3 linked regions of the Homo sapiens genome follow. The protein of the gene in region 1 purifies or fractionates together with the protein of each later gene. This does not show direct contact. Each region holds a gene or a part of one and is shown in the gene's direction. Other genes may lie near its edges.

The links.
Region 2: the proteins of IKZF4 (region 1) and ZNF225 purify together in Homo sapiens (affinity purification with mass spectrometry; one large-scale study listed by BioGRID and IntAct). This does not show direct contact.
Region 3: the proteins of IKZF4 (region 1) and EPB41L5 purify together in Homo sapiens (affinity purification with mass spectrometry; one large-scale study listed by BioGRID and IntAct). This does not show direct contact.

Annotation. Positions count from the first base shown.
Region 1 is NC_000012.12:56,023,952-56,027,605, forward strand, and holds part of IKZF4 (zinc finger protein Eos), read left to right. Parts: exon of another isoform or gene 1-1,044; coding exon of another isoform or gene 1,045-1,102; coding exon 1,103-1,207; intron 1,208-2,829; coding exon 2,830-3,090; intron 3,091-3,654. UniProt on the Homo sapiens protein: DNA-binding protein that binds to the 5'GGGAATRCC-3' Ikaros-binding sequence. Transcriptional repressor. Interacts with SPI1 and MITF to repress transcription of the CTSK and ACP5 promoters via recruitment of corepressors SIN3A and CTBP2.
Region 2 is NC_000019.10:44,119,792-44,123,445, forward strand, and holds part of ZNF225 (zinc finger protein 225), read left to right. Parts: intron 1-3,654. UniProt on the Homo sapiens protein: May be involved in transcriptional regulation.
Region 3 is NC_000002.12:120,086,033-120,089,686, forward strand, and holds part of EPB41L5 (band 4.1-like protein 5), read left to right. Parts: intron 1-1,138; coding exon 1,139-1,208; intron 1,209-3,654. UniProt on the Homo sapiens protein: Plays a role in the formation and organization of tight junctions during the establishment of polarity in epithelial cells.

The DNA of each region.
Region 1 (3,654 bases):
TTTATCCCAATAGGTATGTTCTCTTTATATGTATCTACATATGTGTTGTGTCTCTGTGTGTGTTTATCTACATGTATTTTTATTTCACCTATATATTTGTGTAGAAGATTGTGGGGAGGAGGGATTTTTTTAAAAAAGACATTCATATCTTCCTTTAGGTATGTTATCTGATTTTGAAAAACATTATGAAAGCCTCAAAAAGCATTTTTACAAAGCAATTTATCAGAAAATTAAAACAAATATACTGAGAATAAGTTGATCACTTAACTGTCAATGAATATCAAATAGTAAACACGTGATTGGAATCAGATCAGTAGGAGACTTTCTAGAGTAATCAAATTTTTGCTGAATTTAGAAAGTCTAAGAGGCCCAATTCTTCCCTACTAAGATTGTGACCACCAATTGGCTGTGTAGGTGCTGGTTAAGGACATGGACGCTTACTGTCTATGATCCCAGTTCCACACTAGCAGCTATGTAACCTTAGACAACTAACATAACCTCTTTTGTACCTCAGTTGCCTCATCTGAAAAAATCATGATATTAGCACCTACTTCATATAGTTGTTGTGAGGATTAAATGAAATTATTCATTTCAAGTGCACAGAATAAAGCCTGGCACATAGTAAGTACTCAATTAATATTATTAGCTGCTATGATGATTACTAATATTATCATTAGATTCAAGGACAATTCCAGTTACCTTTCCTGCAGATCCTGAACCGGCTGGGGGCTCCAGAGAGGAACAGTAGGGAAGAATGTCTGTCCTGAACATCTGTCCCTTCTGCAGCCCCCATTTTCCTCTCCGCCCTGGCGCACCCAGCCTCAGCCCTGCTTCCTGTGGACGTCAGGCAGTGATGCTCTTGCCCTCAGGCCTAGATAAAGGTAGGGTAGGCAAGGCCCAGCCACTGAGCTCACAGAAGGCAGCACCAGGCATCCAGACTGGCGGGGGCACAAGGTATGGTGCCCAGCATACAACACTGCTTTGTACATGGCTATGAAGGAAATGTTTGTGAAATTTAACTGAATTTTTTTAAAAGATTAGGCAATGGACAGTAGATATCTCCAGCTCCAGCTTTACCTGCCCTCTTGTTCTCTCCTCCAAGGTAGCGGGGACTCATCTCTGGAGAAGGAGTTCCTCGGGGCCCCAGTGGGGCCCTCGGTGAGCACCCCCAACAGCCAGCACTCTTCTCCTAGCCGCTCACTCAGTGGTAAGTGTAACCTCCTACCACCTCCTGGCAGTAGGCACCCCCTGTTGCATTTGGCCTTCAATTCACCTTCCACTGGCAACCATTTCCCCATCGTCACCTCCTGCTGGTCTCCTGCTTAGTCTCTAAGAGCAATGAGGAGCCCAGTGTCTAGGGTTTTTCTGGCTTCTGAAAGGAGAGTGAATAGTCAGTCACTGGCAGACTAGGGTGGAATTAAAAGAGGTATGGGTGGGATTAAGGTAAAAGTTTCAAAGAGAAATTATGGAATTAGAGAAGCAGGTAGATAGAAATGGTCATCAGATGGAGTTAGATAGGAAATAGAGAGTAGAAGGACCTCCCCATCTCCCCACAGCTCATTCTCCTACCCAGACAGGGTCCCCATGACTGCCTCTCCCCAGCTGGCCCTAGATCTGTGACATTCTCTAAATGGTTGGAGTAGCCAGGAATGTAGGTCGGAGCTAGAGCCAAAGCCTTCTCCTCAATGGTTCCTCCTTCCTTTACCCCTCCTGCCCTGCCTCAGAGTTTTATGGAGGTGGAGGGGGTAGAGGGATTCAATCTAATGAGGTGGGAGGGAACTGTAAGCATGTCTGTCTTCCAGGTTTGCTCTCTTTGGCCTGTTGTCCCCCTTCAGTCTTCCTAGATCTGTTTTCCCGCCACTGTTAACTTGCTGGCTTCCTGCCCAGGGCCAAGCCAGACATCTTTCTTCATGACAAGAGAGTAGAGAAAAAAGCTCCCCTTAGTCGCCTCCTCTCCTCAGCGACAGAAGACATCCTATGTACCCCCAACTTTTTTCTTTTTGAGATGGAGTCTTGCTCTGTCGCCCAGGCTGGACTGCAGTGGCGTGATCTCAGCTCACTGCAACCTCCGCCTCCCAAGTTCAAGCGATTCTCCTGCCTCAGCCTCCGAAGTAGCTGGGATTACAGGCGTACACCACCATGCCCAGCTAATTTTTGTATTTTTAGTAAAGACAGGGTTTCACCATGTTGGCCAGGCTGGTCTCAAACTCCTGACCTCAAAAGAATCCACCCGCCTTGGCCTCCCAAATTGCTGGGATTACAGGCGTGAGCCACCACACCCGGCCCAACTTTTTTCTCTTGAAGCCTATTTGCCTGGTGGGTGGGAGAAAAGGTTGTCTCAGGTTCCAGTAGGATTCTGATATCAGCAGCAGGGATACTAGGGTGTTAGTTCCATTTAAGGCTTGAATGTCTCAGGGCCTAAAGACACCCTCTTAAACTTTAAGAGTGCCATTCTGGGCCAGGCGCAGTGGCTCACACCTGTAATCCCAGCACTTTGGGAGGCCAAGGCAGGCAGATCACCTGAGGTTGGAAGTTCGAGACCATCCTGACCAACATGGAGAAACCCTGTCTGTTCTAAAAATACCAAATTAGCTGGGTGTGATGGTACATGCCTGTAATCCCAGCTACTCAGGAGGCTGAGGCAGGAGAATCACTTGAATCTGGGAGGTGGAGGTTGCGTCGAGCCAAATTCGTGCCACTGCACTCCAGCCTGGGCAACAAGAGCGAAATTCCATCTCAAAAAAAAAAAAAAAAAAAGAGTGCCATTCTGGCCTGGGAGCAGCTTCCCCCTTTGCCTCTCTCTATTCTAAACACCATCCCACCCCTCAGCCAACTCCATCAAGGTGGAGATGTACAGCGATGAGGAGTCAAGCAGACTGCTGGGGCCAGATGAGCGGCTCCTGGAAAAGGACGACAGCGTGATTGTGGAAGATTCATTGTCTGAGCCCCTGGGCTACTGTGATGGGAGTGGGCCAGAGCCTCACTCCCCTGGGGGCATCCGGCTGCCCAATGGCAAGCTCAAGTGTGACGTCTGCGGCATGGTCTGTATTGGACCCAACGTGCTCATGGTGCACAAGCGCAGTCACACTGGTAAGTAAGCCAGAGGGGCTCTGGGAGGAGCTCCCAGGGTGGGGTTGAGAGGCAGGGGCAGTGCTGGGACAACAGCAGGTATGGGGCTGGAGGAGGTCATGCAGGGAGTGGGTAGCCTCAGAAAGGGAAGGGTCTCACCCAGCACATTTTCCAGCTGACAAAACGAGGCAGGGTGGGGGTGGGTACAGAATTTGAATTCCCCTCAATACCTTTAGTTTCCTGGCACTCTCCTCAACCGCTGTTATAAAGAAAAGGTGATATTTTTCTCAGTATATGAGGGAGGGGAAAGTGTAGACTCAAGAATGAGCCAATGGTCCAATAGGGGTAAGACTCCTGGGTATTCTTTGGGCCCTCCCATCTAATAATTAAAAAACAACAACAACAACAACAACAACAAAACAGAAAACAAAAGCCTTCTCTTCTCAGCTTCCTTGGGCCTTGGGCTCCTAGGGCAGAGTGGGCCCTGTGGGGCTCAGTTTTTGGTAACAGTCTTTTGGCCTCGTGTTCCAGGCCCCTCTCCCTGCCACACACCTCTAATCCACACCTTCCCCAGGGTAAGACCCC
Region 2 (3,654 bases), on another chromosome or scaffold:
TGCCTCAGAGCCCTTACTTGCTTTTCTGTCTGATCAGAATACTCTTTCACCTCAAAACTTTCTGGCTTCTCCTTTAAGCATATTCAAGTCTCTGTTCAGTTTTAGAGAGGCCATTTCCAACCACCCTATTTAAAATACTATTCTAGGCCAGGCGCGGTAGCTCACGCCTGTAATCCCACTACTTTCGGAGACCAAGGTGGGTGGATCACTGAGATCAGGAGTTTGAGACCAGCCTGGCCAACATGGTGAAATCCCATCTCTACTAAAAATACAAAATTTGCCAGGCGTGGTAGTGTGTGCCTGTAGTCTCAGTTACTCGGGAGGCTGAGGCAGGAGAATCACTTGAACCCAGGAAGCGGAGGTTGCAGTGAGCCGAGATGGCGCCACCGCACTCCAGCCTTGGTGACAAAGTAAGACTCTGTCTCAAAAAAACAAACAAAACACTGTTCTATTTTTTTCTTCTTGTGCTGTCTTGCACTGTGTCTTATATATTTCTGTTTACCTGTCACTTTTACCCCCAGGAATGTGATGTCTAAGAGGATGAATTTTAGCTGTTTTGCTCATGGCTGTCTATTCACAGGCTAGAAGGTATTGTTCTGGTACATGGCAGGTATCTAATTATTTGTTATCCTGATAAATAAATTAATGGATGAGGGGAACTTCAGTGTCTCCAGGAATCATGGAGATAGATAGCTAATAAGTGATACACAAACTAGAGTGAATGAGAGCTATTGCAGAACATGTTTCTGTCTTTTGATGGCTGCCTATCTAATTAGAACTTTCTTAGGATTCCTTGTTGGGATACTATTTTTAGGTATGTGCAGTTCACCTACATCCCATGGAAACTTCTAAGTGTTCTTTTTATGGCCACACTGAGTATTATGCCTTCTCTCTGACTTGTCTTGGAGCTTTATGTTTTTATTTTTATTTTTTAAAAATTTTCCACAAGTTATTGGGGTATAGGTGATATTTGGTTACATAAGTTCTTTAGCGACTTGTGAGAATTTGGTGCGCTCATCACCCGAGCAGTATATGCTGCACCATATTTGTAGTCTTTTGTCTCTCGCCCTCCTCCCACTCTTTCCCGCAAGTCCCCAAAGTCCATTTCTCTCTTTTTTTTTTTTAAGCAGAGTCTCGCTCTGTTGCCCAGGCTGGAGTGCAGTGGTGCCATCTCGGCTCACTGCAGGCTCCGCCTCCCAGGTTCACGCCATTCTCCTGCCTCAGCCTCTCAAGTAGCTGGGACTACAGGCGCCCGCCACGATGCCCTGCTAATTTTTTTTATATTTTTAGTAGATACGGGTTTTACCGTGTTAGCCAGGATGGTCTCGATCTCCTGACCTCGTGATCCACCCGCCTCGGCCTCCCAAAGTGCTGGGATTACAGGCCATTGTCTCATTCTTATGCCTTTGCATCCTCGTAGGTTAGCTCCCACATATCAGTGAGAATATATGATGTTTGGTTTTCCATTCCTGAGTTACTTCACTTAGAATAATAGTCTCCAGTCTCATCCAGGTTGCTGCAAATGCTATTAATTCATTCCTTTTTATGGCTGAGTAGTATTCCATTGTATATAATACCACAGTTTTCTTTATTCACTCGTTGATTGATGGGCATTTGTGTTGGTTCCACGATTTTGCAATTTTGAATTGTGCTGCTGTAAACATGCATGTGCAAGTATCTTTTTCGTGTAATGACTTCTTTTCCTCTGGATAGATACCCAGTAGTGGGATTGCTGGATCAAATGGTAGTTCTACTTTTAGTTCTTTAAGGAATTTCCACATTGTTTTCCATAGTGGCTGTACTAGTTTACATTCCCACCAGCAGTGCAGAAGTGTTCCCTGAACAACACATCCATGCCAACATCTACTGTTTTTTTGATTTTTGATTATGGTCATTCTTGCAGGAGTAAGGTGGTATCGCATTGTGGTTTTGATTTGCATTTCCCTGATCATTAGTGATTTTGAGCTTTTTAAAATATGTTTGTTGGCCATCTATATCTTCTTTTGAAAATTGTCTATTCATGTTCTTAGCCCACTTTTTGATGGGGTTGTTTGGTTTTTTTCTTACTGATTTGTTTGAGTTTGTTGTAGATTCTGGATATTAGTCCTTTGTCAGATGTACAGATTGTAAAGATATTCTCCCACTCTGTGGGTTGTCTGTTTATTCTGGTGACTGTTCCTTTTGCTGTGCAAAAGCTCTTTAGTTTAATTAGGTCCCAATTATTTATCTTTGTTTTTATTGCATTTGTTTTTGGGTTCTTGATCATGAAATCCTTGCCTAAGCCAATGTCTAGAAGGATTTTTCCAATGTTACCTTCTAGAATTTTTATAGTTTCAGGTCTTAGATTTGAGTCCTTAATCTATCTTGAATTGATTTTTGTATAAGGTGAGGGATGAAGATCCAGTTTCATTCTCCTACATGTGGCTAGCCAATTATCCCAGCATCATTTGTTGAAAAGGGTGTCCTTTCCCCCACTTTATGTTTTTGTTTGCTTTGTCGAAGATCAATTGGCTGTAAGGATTTGGGTTTATTTCTGGGTTCTCTATTCTGTTCCTTTGGTCTATGTGCCTATTTTTATACCAGTACCATGCTGTTTTGGTGACTATGGTCTTATAGTATAGTTTGAAATCAGTTAGTGTGATGCCTCCAGATTTGTTCTTTTTGCTTTAGTCTTGCTTTGGCTCTGCGAGCTCTTTTTTGGTTCCGTATGAATTTTAGCATTTTTTTTCTAATTCTATGAAGAATGATGGTGATGTTTTGATAGGGATTGCATTTAATTTGTAGATTGCTTTTAGCAGTATGGTCATTTTCACAATATTGATTGCACCCATCCATGAGCATGAGATGTGTTTCCATTTGTTTGTGTCATGTATGATTTCTTTCAGCAGCATTCTGTAGTTTTCCTTGTAGAGGTCTTTTGACTCCTTGGTTAGGTGTATTCCTGAGTATTTGATTTTTTTTGCAACTATTATAATAGGGGTTGGGTTCTTGATTTGATTCTCTGCTTGGTTGCTGGTGGTGTGTAGAAGAGCTACTGATTTGTGTACATTAATCTTGTATCCAGAAACTTTGCTGAATTCTTTTATCAGTTCCAGGAGCTTTCTGGAGGAGTCTTTAGGATTTTCAATGTAGATGATCATATCATTAGCGAACAGTGACAGTTTGACTTCCTCTTTACCGATTTGGGTGCCCCTTATTTCTTTCTCTTGTCTGATTGCTCTGGCTAGGACTTCCAGTACTATGTTGAGGAGTGGTGAGAGCAGATGTTCTTGTCTTGTTCCAGTTCTCAGAGGGAATGCTTTCAACTTTTCCCTATTCAGTGTTATGTTTGCTGTGGGTTTGTCATAGATGGCTTTTATTACATTGAGGTATGTCCCTTGTATGCCGATTTTGTGAGTTTTAATCATAAAGCGTTGCTGGATTTTGTCAGATGCTTTTTCTACATCTATTGAGATGATCAAGTGATTTTCATTTTTAATTCTGTTTATGTGGTGTATCACATTTATTGACTTGGGTATGTTAAACCATCCCTGCATCCCTGGCATGAAACCCATTTGATCATGATGGATTATCTTTTTGATATGTTGTTGGATTAAGTTACCTAGTATTTTGTTAAGGATTTTAGCATCAATGTTCATCAAGGATATCGGTCTG
Region 3 (3,654 bases), on another chromosome or scaffold:
TAAAAATACTAAGATTAGCCAGGCATAGCATGGTGGCACGCACCTGTAATCCCAGCTACTCTGGAGGCTGAGGCAGGAGAATTGCTTGAACCTGGGAGGTGGAGGTTGTAGTGAGCCAAGATCACGCCACTGCACTCCAGCCTTTGTGACAGAGTGAGATTCTGTTTCCTTTCTTTTTCCTGCTATTATTTCTTCATTATTGTTTTAGTAAAGCTCTTGTAAAGTTATGTTTTACATCTATTTTATATGTTATATTTAAAGATTAGTCAATCGGAGTGTCACATTGTTTCGACATTCACAATTTATGGAAATACAGAGTTCAAATGTGTGGTAGGTGGTTTGGAATTTACAAGTAGGGAGATACAGTTGGAAAGCGGGCCATAAAGCGAGGTTAAAAAAATTAAGAAGTATTTCCTCTACCCAAAATTCCTGTTGAAAACAGAGTTGAGGCTGGTTGCAGTGGCTCACGTCTGAATTCCAACACTTTGGGAGACCAGGGTATGCGGATCACTTGAGCCCAGGAATTTGAGACCAGCCTGGGCAACGTAGCGAGATGCCGTCTCTACAAAGAATACAAAAATTAGCCTGGTGTGGTGTGGGAGTAAGGCTGAGGCAGGAGGATTACTGGAGCCTGGAAGTTCACGGCTGCAGTGAGCTGTGAACACACTACTGCAGTCCACCCTGTGTAATGGAGGGAGAACCTATCTCAAACAAACAAAAAGAGTTGAAAACCATCGTCAGTGTTTTTCTTTATGGCTGTTTTTTTTAAGCTTTATGGTCGTTCCTATGTCTAGTTCCTATGCTGCTGCTCTGCTTTAACACTGGAACAATTTTCCCTAGACCTAAAGAATCTCTTACACCATAATCGAGACCTATCAAATACATAGATTTCATTTTCCTTAACATTTTTAATGTCTGATATGTGCAACCTCAATTTTGTCTGAGATTTGCTTTTGAAATATGTACTGTGTTTTTCTGTTTCCTGTCTTTTGATGGGCATTGCAAGTTACGTTTACCGTCCTGTCAATTTTTAGTTCAGGAGTTAGATGGTTAAATGTATTTGAAATAAAAACAATTTTTTTCATATTTAGAGAACATTTGTTTGTAATTTGGCTTTTATTCTCTTATTATATTATAGGCCGAAGATAACCAGATTGGATTTTAAGAAGAATAAATTAACCTTGGTGGTTGTAGAAGATGATGATCAGGTAGGAATAAAATTATATTCTATTACTTGTGTAACAGTGACTGTATTATGTGGTAACTTATTTCTCTAAAAGAGGGAATGTACCTCATTGTTTTAAAGAGCCACAGAATGCAAACAGTATAATTAATGCTTTAAATAATTTCCTTACTTGGGTCATACCATGCTAAAAATATGGTTTTCTGCCCTTAGGATGAAAAATAATATAAAAGTGTCTTCTTGTTTCCTCATTGATCGTATATCTGAGGTGTATAAAAAATTACATTTAAGTGAGCCAGCCAGTCACCCAGGCTGGAGGGCAGTGGCACTGTCATAGCTCACTGTAACCTTCACCTTCTGGGCTCAAGTGATCCTCCTGCTCACTCAGCCTCCTGAGTAGCTGGGACTGCAGGCACATGCCACCACCACGCCTGGCTGATTTTTTCATTTATTTGTAGAGATGGGATCTCAGTATGTTGCCAAGGTTGCTCTCAAACTCTTGGCCTTAAGTAATCCTCCCATCTTAGCTTCTCAGCATGTTGAGATTACAGGAGTAAACCATTGTGGCAGACCAACTTTATCTCTTTATTAACTGATCAAAAAGATCTACCTAATAATAATAAAGCCTTTTGAATTAAAGATTACCTTTGTATCAGTTACAGTGTGGTTCTTAATTGATACATGCTTGGATGCAACTCACATGCATTGTTCTTAATGCAAGAAGCCAGATTTAAAAAATTATGTATTGAATGACTCCATTTATCTGATACTTTAGAAAAGGCAAGAAGAATTTTACTTTATGCAAATTAATAAATTTTAACATATGCATACAGATACAGATAAAAGCAGTTTGAGCAAAATGTTAACAGTTGTTGAGTCTAGACACTATGTATATGGGTATTCAGTTTTTCTGTATGTTTAAACATTTTTATAACGATGAAAATTTTTTTTTTGAATCCAGTTCTTTCATTTTCCTCTGCTCAGTAATTTGACTGCTATACTTTTCCTGTTTTAAACACACAATGGGATACTATGCAGCCATAAAAAAGAATGAGATCTTTTTTGCGGGACCATGGATGGAGCTGGAGGATATTATCCTTAGCAAAGTAATGCAAGAAGAGAAAACCAAATACTACATGCTCTTACTTACAAGTGGGAGCTAAATGATAAGAACTTATGAACACAAAGAAGGCAACAGCGGACACTGGGATCTACTTGAGTGGGGAGGGTGGGAAGAGGGAGAAGAGTAGAAAAGATAACTAACTGAAAGATAACTGGACTTAATACCTGGGTGATGAAATAACATGTGCAATAAACCACCATGACACGTGTTTACCTATGTAACAAACCTTCTCTTGTACCCCAAACCCAAAATAAAAGTTAAAAAATAAAAAAGAGTGCTGCTCTGAACACTAAGGTGTATGTATATTTAGCTTTTGTAGGTACTGCCAAACCTCTTTCCAAAGTATTTAATACGAGTTTATACTCCCACCAGCAATGTTATTGGTGTTTTTTTTCTTTTTTGCTAATGTTTGGAATTCTGTCTTTTTCATTGTAGCCATTCTTGTGGAGTAGAATGTGGTTTTAGTTTGTGTTCCCCTAATGACAACTCTGGTTTAGTACTTATCTGTGTAGTTATTGGATATGTGGATATCTTCTTTATGAAATGCCTACTCAAATCTTTTGCTTATTTTTCTATTAGGTCATGTGCCTTTTAGTCATTGAAAAAATTCTTTGTATGTTCTGGATATTAATTCTCTGTCAGATATTAGTGTTGCAAGTATCGTCTACTCCTTGTTTTGCCCTTTTTCCACCACTTTTATTTTTAGATGACATATAATAATTGTACATATTTATTGCATACAGAGTGATATTTTGATACATGTATACAATGTGTAATTATCAAATCAGGGTAATTAGCGTATCCATCTTTACTGTCTTAATAGTGTCTTTAAATAACCTGAAAAGTACCAAAAATTATAAAATAGATAACCATCTTATTAATGATCTAGATTTAACATTTTTTACATTTTGCTTCAGTTCTCTTTTAGAGAAAGATAAATACAATTATGTGCATGAATAAATAATACCAACTAAAGTCTAACCCCCTGACTACCTACCCCCTTTCTTCTGGTACCTGGTCACCAATTTTGGAGGGTATTATTCTCATATATATTTTGTAACTTTTTCCAAATATTAACTCATGTTAGAATTGTTTTAAAAACTTGCATAATTATATATATTTGCAGCTTGCCTGTTTTATCTAAACGTGTACCTATGTAGATCTAACATATATATATGCTATTGTGTAATATGAATAAACAATAGCACATTCATTCATTCATCATTTATTCATTTATCCCTCTGCATAATTTTTTACATATGCCTCTATTTACTTGACCATTTCTCTTTTTTTGGACGTTTAGGGTTTGTACCAAGTTTTACTATTATAAATGAGACTGAGGAAATAT